Linked DNA regions of Homo sapiens: regions 2 and 3 are each linked to region 1. Evidence: fine-mapped expression QTL. A gene starts in region 1. Each other region holds a variant in brackets. All regions are shown on one strand. Distances are from middle to middle.

Region 1 (2,759 bases):
GTTCTATTAAGATATAGAGCCCACCTTACCTGTGACTTCTGAGCTCTGGAGAAGGGGTTCCCTGTTTCTCAGATCTCATCACCCATTAGCACCAAAAGAGCTATGGCTGCCAGGAATGACTCAATAAACATAACACGTCCTGGCTTCTTTGACCAGACAGACCTAGGTCCTGGGGTGGGGAGGGGAAGGGGTTTCATCTTGTGTGGCTGAGCCTGTTGTAATTCTTCTAGCAGGTTTTGACAGGAGAATGGGGAGAAGTCTTGTGGACTCGGTGATTCTGAATGAGAATGAGTGAGAAGCTCTGAGTGTGGAAGGAGGGTGCAGGGACCAGGTATGCATGTATGTTTCTTGGAAGGGGGGCTGAAGCAGAAAGACAAGTTTATCCTGGCATCTAGGGTTGTCGTTAGCATTTTCTTTTCTAAATCAGTAGTAGCTCTCAGAGTGGTGTTTCTAAAGTGTTAGTGTGCAAAGGAATCACTAGGGCTGCTTGTTAAAATTACCAATCCTGAGCCTACCTCCAGAGATTCTGGTTCCACAGCAGCACTGTGGTGGGGGCCAGTGACTTTTGTGGGGGTGTCTGAGGGCTGTGGTGCCCCAGAACCTGGAAGGGCAGAGGGGCCATGATCAGGTTTCAGATCAGTGGCCAGAGGCTTTTCTGGAAGCTGTACATTTTCACAAGCACATTTTCAAAAGCCCTTGGAGAGGATGTTGATTGAGGGGAGTTTTGGGGACTGGTGGAGATTATGGGGGTGAAAAGTCCAGAGCTATCTCTTAACACCCCTACTCTCTGAGGGCCAGGCCTTGAAAGTATTGGAAATGGGAGGTGCCTTAGGTACACTGTCATTTTACAGAGGAAGACAACGAGGCCCAGAGAGGTTAAGTGGGTTGATTAAGGTCTCACAGCTAGTTAAGAGCAGCTCTGAGACGGCAACCGAAGTATTCTGGTTCCCTATCCAGTTCCCCACTCACTACACACCTGTTCCTTCTGGGGCGGGAGACCTGAGGAAGGAAAGGAGTGAGAGGAGAATGTAGTGAGAGTTGGAGAGCGTTGGGTCCACAGCCCCCAAGGGCAGGGCCACAACAAAAATGTTGTCCTGGTTGAAAAGGAGTGAGAATCAGGACAGGGAGAATTTTGGTTTGGAATTCAGTCAAACAATTGCTATTAAAATCACTAATAGAATTATCTTCCGAAGGCTAGCTGTCCTTTCCAGACGAAAAGAAATATTCCAAGTCTAAGACTTTTGCTTTCTTCCTTCCAGGGAGAATACATTCCCCCAAGGGAGCTCTGTTTCAGATTTTCTCCCTAGTAACAGACTCCCCTGCTTAGCTCTGGCCATCCCGGGTAGTGAGTGGTGCGGGGCGGGGGTGGAAGGGGGCTGGAAGCCTGGCTAGGGGGGTCTGCGGCGGCGCGGGCGGGGGCGCTGCGGGGAGGAGGGGGGCGCTGCGGGGCGGTAGTGGGGGTGCTGCGGGGCGAGGCCGCTGCGGGGCGGTGGGGGGCGCTGCGGGCGGGGGCACTGCAGCACCGCGGCCCTCGGGCGGCCGGCGCGGCCTGCTGGAGGGGGCGCTGTGGGCACCGCGCAGCGGCCTTTTGTCAGCGCGCAGGGCCAGGAGAGCTCTCATTTCCTCCCAGCCTCGTGCGGGAAATGGCTTTAATTCTGACGGCAGGGCTGTGAGGGACTAGCGGGAACCCGAGCCTTTTGTCAAGGAACTGCGGCGTCGGTGGCCAGTCATCCCCGCCGCCGCGGAGCCGCTGCACTGCTGGGGGATCTCCCAGCAGCTCTGACGAGCGCGGGCTGCAGCATGGGCAGAAAACGCTGCCCTGCAGATTAGCTGGGTGGATTTTTTAAGCGCACCCCACCCCCCAAACCCATAAAATAACAAAACCAACCCGCAGTGGCCGACCGGAGATAGCTAAGATGCCGCGCAGGAGGTAAGGGTCTGGGGAGCGGGCCTGGTGGGCTGCCTGGGGTCGCTGGTCTCCTGGCGCGGAGACCCTGGCATCCCTCGGCCGGGCGGGAGCCGCTTGGCCCAGGTGGGGCGCGTCTGTTGCCGAGCGCGTCGGTGCTGCAGCCCTGGCCGGCAGCGGTGTGTTTTGCGCCTAAAGGTTTCTGGTGATGATGTAGCATCCGAGGCTCTTAGGAAATCGGGGCTGCAAGCACTGGCCCCTGCTTGGGGATGGTGGGACCCTCGCCCGGAGCGTAACGCCTGACAGGTGGGGCTTTCTTTTGGGTCCGAATGGAGGGGCGGCAAGCCTCGCCTCGCCTAGCCGGGCGGGGCCGCTCCTCCCCTCCCCTCCCTCCCCTCCCCTCTCTTTCCTTCCCGCTCGGCCGCCGCCCTCCGGGGTAGCGGTGCGAGGCGGGCTTGGCGGGGCTGGGCGCGTCCCCCGGGGCCTCGCGATCGCTGGCTGCGCGGCGCTCAGCCGCAGTGGCCGGCCGAGCAGGTGCGGCGTCGGCAGCCGCCTACATTGAGATCGGGGCAACCGGCACGTGAGCGGGCCTCGTGGGTTTTGATTTTATGCGGCTCCACCACTTTGGAGGGAAAAATCCCACTGTACCCGAGGGGGTCTTGCCAGTCTGTTTCTTCCATCTTCCCTCTCCTCTCCCTGCCTCCCCTCCCTTTCTGCAGCCGGGGCGGAGGCCATCCCCGGTCCCGGAGGCGGGAGTCGGTGTCTGCTTATTTTTAAATCACACCACAGCCTACCTGGTGTTGGGGGGAAGGGAGGGAGGGGCAGACTGCTTTAGGATGCAGATCAGGCTCTC
Region 2 (2,759 bases), 56 kb before region 1:
CCTGGGTTTAACCAATCCTCCTGCCTTAGCCTCCTGAGTACCTGGAACCTCAGGTGTGCACCACCATGCCCAGCTAATTTTTTTTTAATTTTAGTAGAGATGAGGTCTTGCTATGTTGCCCAGGCTGGCTTCAAACTCCTGAGCTCAGGTGATCCTCCTGCCTCAGCTTCCCAAAGTGCTTAGATTACAGGTGTGAGTTGCCATACCCAGCCATCCCTAATATCTTTTAAATACCTTTTTAGGCTGGGCTCAGTGGCTCATGCCTGTGTTCACAGAGCACAGAACTCAAGGAGAATCACTTGATCACAAGAGTTTGAGGCCAGCCTGGGCAACATAGGGAGACCCTGTCTCTAAAAAAAAAATACAAAACTTAGCCGTGTGTGGTGGCGTGTGCCTGTAGTCCCAGCAAATCAAGAGTCTGAGGTGGGAGAATTGCTTGAACCTGGGAGGTCAAGGCTGCAGTGAGCTGTAATCACGCCACTGTACTCCAGCCTGGGTGATAGAGTGAGACCCTGTCTCAAAAATTTTTTTTAAAAACTTTATATTATAGAATAGTTTCAGCTTTACAGAAAAATTGTGAAGATAATACAGAGAGTTTCTATATACCCACCCTTTCCCATTTCCCCGATTGTTAACATCTTATATTAGTATGGTACATTTGTCACAATTAATGAGCCAATATTTAACTGAAGTCCATACTTTATTCAGATTTCGTTGGTTTTCCCCTAACATCCTTTTTCTCTCCTAGGATCCCATCCAGAATACCACGTTACATTTAGCCATCATGTCTCCTTGGGATCCTCTTGGCTGTGACATTTTCTCAGTCTTTCCTTGTTTTTGAAGACTTTGACAGTTTTGAGGAGCCCACTGGTCAGGTACTTTGTAGATTGTCCCTTAAATGGAATTTGTCTGGTGTTTTTCTCATGATTACATTGGGGTACTGAGTTTCAGGAGGAAGACCATGGAGATAAAGGGCCATTCTCATCACATCCTATGAAGGGTACATACCATCAATAGAATTCATTACTGTTGGCGTTGACCTTGATCTCCAGGCTGGGGTAGTGTTTGCCAAGTTTATTGACTCCAGAATTACTCTTTTCTCCCTTTTCCTGTACTGAACTTTTTGGAAGGAAGTCACTATATGCAGTTCACACTGAAAGAGTAGGAAGTTACACTCTACTTTTCTCAGAATGGGATATTTACATAAAATATTTGGACATTTTCTGCCCTAGAGACTTATCTATTTGTTTACTTACTCAGACATTCATTTATGTCAGTATGGACTCACAGATATTTCTCTTACACTTTGGGTTATAATCCAATACTATTTTATTTGTTTTTTTGTTTTGTT[T/C]TTGCTCAAATTGCTCTGGCTTTGGCCATTGGGAGCTCCTTCATTGGTTCCTGTGTCATTTTGACATACTTCCCTCAGTTTTTTTTTTTTTTTTTTTTTTTTGGTAACTAAGCATCTCCTTACTTTCTGGTACTACAAGATGCTCCAGGCTCATCTTGAGTATTTCCTGCCCCAGTTCTAGAGTCAGCCATTTCTCTAATGAGCCCTGGTTTCCTTTTTTTGGAGAATGGTGTTAGAAATCAAAACCTGGGGGCTGTGTGGCTGTTGCTATTTGAACATCATTGCCTCTCCCAGCTGAGAGAGCTAAGTAATATTTGTGTGTACATCTAATTTTTTTTGAAAAGATCATTATGCTTGCACCATGGTGACAGGACTTGAGAGGGGGTAAGAGGAGAGGCAGGGAGAACAGTTAGGAGACGAACGGAATAAAAGCCAGGTGGTTTGCATTCAGGCCTGTAAATGTGTTGAATTGTTGTTGCTGTATTTTGTAGGGTGTAAAATCAGGACACTTTGTACTGCTGAATACAAGTGCTCACATCATGTCAAGAAGCTGTCCCTACTATTAAATAAAATGTCCTGGATTAAAAAACATAAAGAAGAATCCGCCTCTCTCCCTCTCCTGGCTCTGGCTCCCTCTGGTTTGGCTTTAGTCCCACCAAGTAGACTCTTTCTTTCTTTCTTTCTTTCTTTTTTTTTTTTTGGAGTCTTGCTCTGTCACCCAGGCTGGAGTGCAGTGGCACAATCTCGGCTCACTGCCACCTCCGCCTCCCAGGTTCAAATGATTCTCCTGTCTCAGCCTCCCGAGTAGCTGGGATTACAGTCACCTGCCACCATGCCCAGTTAGTTTTTGTATTTTTAATAGAGACAAGGGTTTCATCATGTTGGCCAGACTGGTCTTGAACTCTTGGCCTCAAGTGATCCACCTGCCTCGGCCTCACAAAGTGCTGGTATTGCAGGCATGAGCCACCGTGCCTGGCCAGTTCTTGTATTAATGCCCATTTGTTTTTGTCTGGCCAGAGAACAGAAAGCCTCTCAGTGAAGACATAGCAACCCCCTGGTTTTTCTGCCCTGCTGGTAGATGGTGTTCCTGTGGGAAATAGAAGAGCTAGGGCCCGGAGGGTGGGTGGGGAGGCCAGGGAAGAACTATGCCCCTCTCCTGGCCCAGACTCTGACCTTCCAGTTGGGCAAGGGATCCGTAGAGTTCTGCCTTCGAGGTTCCCTCAGCTCTCAGGCCTCAGGAGGAAATAGGTCCTGAGTAGGTCCAGCCTGGGCCCTTCCTGTGTATGGGGAAACAGAAACCAAGACAAGCCCTTTCTTTTCAGCCACCAGCCCTGGGTGTCTGATGGGCCTCTAGGGAGGCACCTCCAGCAGCTTCCATCCCATTCTATGTGGCGGTGAAGGAGTCTGG
Region 3 (2,759 bases), 100 kb after region 1:
CCTGGGGCCTCTCCCAGCCTGGTTTTCAGCCTGTTGACAGAGGAGGGGTCTAGGCTATCAGAGCCTGTCCTCAGTACTTTCCAGGGGCCTAACACATGTTGATTTCTGGAGCCCTGTCCCTTCTCTTGGCCAGTGGAACCCTCCAGTGGTCTCTGACTCTATAGTTGAGGGAGTGGTGACCTTAGTTGGGAACCTGGCTCCTCCAAGCCCCATTTTCCATTTGCTATGACTCCTCAAACAATTCATGATGTGGAACCTCTCTGAATCATGGCAGATGCACCATCTGTGGCCCCCACTTTCTACATGGTGAGAAGAACCTTGGGTGTTGCTCTCCTAAACCAGACACACACCAGGGGCTGAGGCTGTTGCTTAGGTTGACAGCAGGGCAGGTATGGGCAAAGGGACATGGATGAGGGGCATGGTTGAAGGAGGCCATTGGAGTGAAGATACTCATTGCCACCAGGCAGGAAATGACACTTGGACAGAAAGTGGGAGCCCCTCTTATCCATAGTTGTCTTCACGGAGCTAGAAGGCAAGTGCCCCAACCATCTTAGAGGAGAGCGCCAAGGGTCAGTCTTGAGAAATGCATCCTAATGTATCATCCAAGTGAAGGCCCTGCAGTGAGGGTCTAGTTTGAAGTTGCAGAGCCCTGGAGAGCCCAGGAAGATGAGAGGGAAGACCAGGGCATAGGTACAGGAGACAAAGGCCAGCACTCAGGGCTGGTGTTCATTTACATGAGTGGATCCAGTTCAGCTTAGAAGGCTCAGGCTGGGATAGATAAGAAAAGATTAGGTGATGATATTGGCTTGGTTAGAATAAATCCATTCACATATTCATTTATTTGCTCATGCCTTCAACCATTCATGGATTCCACAGACCTTTTCTGAGTGCCTTCTGTGAGCTAGTGACATAGGTCATTAGACACAATTTTGCCCTAATTCATTTCAGTGTAGAAGGGGGAGGAGATAGGCATAAAAAACAAGTGTGGGCTGGATGCAGTGGCTCACGCCTGTAATCCCAGCACTTTGGGAGGCCAAGGTGGGCGGATCACGAGGTCAGGAGTTCGAGACCATCCTGGCCAACATGGTGAAACCCCATCTCTACTAAAAATACAAAAATTAGCTGGGCTTGGTAGTGGGCACCTGTAATCCCAGCTACTTGGGAGGCTGAGGCAGGAGAATTGCTTGAACCTAGGAGGTGGAGATTGCAGTGAGCCGAGATTCCACCATTGCACTCCAGCTCTAAGCGACAGAGCAGGACTGTTTCGGGAAAAAAAAAAAAACAAAAAAACAAGTGTGATCGTTTTGCAGATGCTGTGATGGAAGTTTAGATAGCAGAGGCAGAAAGGAAGGAGTGATAAACTCTACCTGGAAGTGGGAACGAGGATCAGGAGAGACTTGAAGGAAGAAGTAACACTCAAGGTGATTCATTATATGGAGTGAAGGCTGGGGACACAGAGGAGAGAGAAGGGCCTTCCAGAGGGGAATGGGCTGGGATGACAGTGAGAGGTCCAGGACCAGCAGCTTGGTATGGCA[G/A]GAAGCAGGCGAAGTGGGAATAGGAGAGTGGACAGAGAGATGGTTGTGTCCAGCCTGGTTTATGGCACTCAAGAGTACTGCCAAGTGATGGCCACAGTATTACGTGGCGGGACGGGATGGGACACTGGATGAGGATGACAGGACATGGGCTGGGCAGTGGGAAGACTGGGAGCAGTGGCCAAAGTCTTTGATACCAAGAGGGAGCTGGTGCTCCGCAGTGGTCTGGAGGGGGCACTTTGACTTGCCCAGCAGTGTCAGGAGTTGCAAAGACTTTGTTACAGGGAGATCTGGCCCAGGTGGTTCACTAGTCCACTTTAACTGTCCACAAGTTACCCCACTCTGTCCCATCCTCCATGTAACCGTGCACTTCCCCAGACTTCACCCCTGTTAAGACCCCAGGCTTCTCCTAAAACTGAGTCCTTCACTCGCTCCCTCTGTAACACTGACTATACCTTCCACATCACCCACGATTCCATACACCTCAGCATGCCGGGTTCCTTCTTGTGATGTGGCAACACACACACTGCATTCATATGTGCCCATCACACACACACCACACAGGTGTGTCACACACTCACTCGCACACATTCACACCCTCGCATATGCTCATGTGCACTCACACACACTTACACAAACACATTTGTAAACGCTCACTCCCACACTCATATACCACTCACTGTCACACACACTGGTTCGCACATGCTCACACCACACACACAGACACACTCATGGCAAACAATCTCACTTGCATACTCAAACTTACACACTTACACCACACACAACCTGCCCACTCACACTTGCACACCCTCACACACCCACACACACACTTGCACACTCACACACACTTGTACACACTCACACGTGCTCACCCACACACACTCCTTTCAGTTCCCGTCGTGAGAAGAAGCTGAACCGGAAGTTGGTAAGCCGAGGTCTGCCCACCATGGTACTGTGTTCTTCAGCCTTCTTAACTGTGCAGTGGGGAGGAGAGGCATCAGATAATATTTACCTTGCTTTCTACTTTTCAGTCTGTGGTTTTACAATCTCCCTGACTCTCACCCCATCCAGGCATCTGAAAGGTTGTGTGGAAGCAAGGTTGAGTGAGAGTGGGGAGGGGGAGAAAGGGTGGCAGGAGGGTTTGGTTTCTGGGGCCTGAGTAACTCTGGCCTTGAACATTCCCGCGATCCCGACAGATTCCCAGGTGGAATAAAGACCTGGGGGCCC

Evidence for each region. PIP is the estimated chance that this variant, and not a neighbour inherited with it, causes the effect.
Region 2: its variant is the best candidate, but not a certain one, in a credible set for the expression of ADD2 in whole blood (INTERVAL, PIP 0.80).
Region 3: its variant is the best candidate, but not a certain one, in a credible set for the expression of ADD2 in whole blood (INTERVAL, PIP 0.89).

The regions. Positions count from the first base shown.
Region 1 is chr2:70,767,057-70,769,815 of GRCh38, reverse strand. It overlaps ADD2 (adducin 2), which reads left to right and starts at 1,616. Exons shown (of 16, transcript NM_001617.4): 1 at 1,616-1,930. RefSeq lists enhancers at 376-940, 1,350-1,915, 1,916-2,481.
Region 2 is chr2:70,823,317-70,826,075 of GRCh38, reverse strand. It overlaps a transcript of CLEC4F not described here and a transcript of CD207 not described here. Among named protein-coding and RNA genes, the nearest start is that of CLEC4F, 4.1 kb to the right of the region's middle. The variant T/C (reference allele first, on the strand shown) is at 1,352.
Region 3 is chr2:70,664,342-70,667,100 of GRCh38, reverse strand. The region is part of intron 15 of ADD2 (adducin 2); the gene reads left to right. Among named protein-coding and RNA genes, the nearest start is that of ADD2, 100 kb to the left of the region's middle. The variant G/A (reference allele first, on the strand shown) is at 1,536.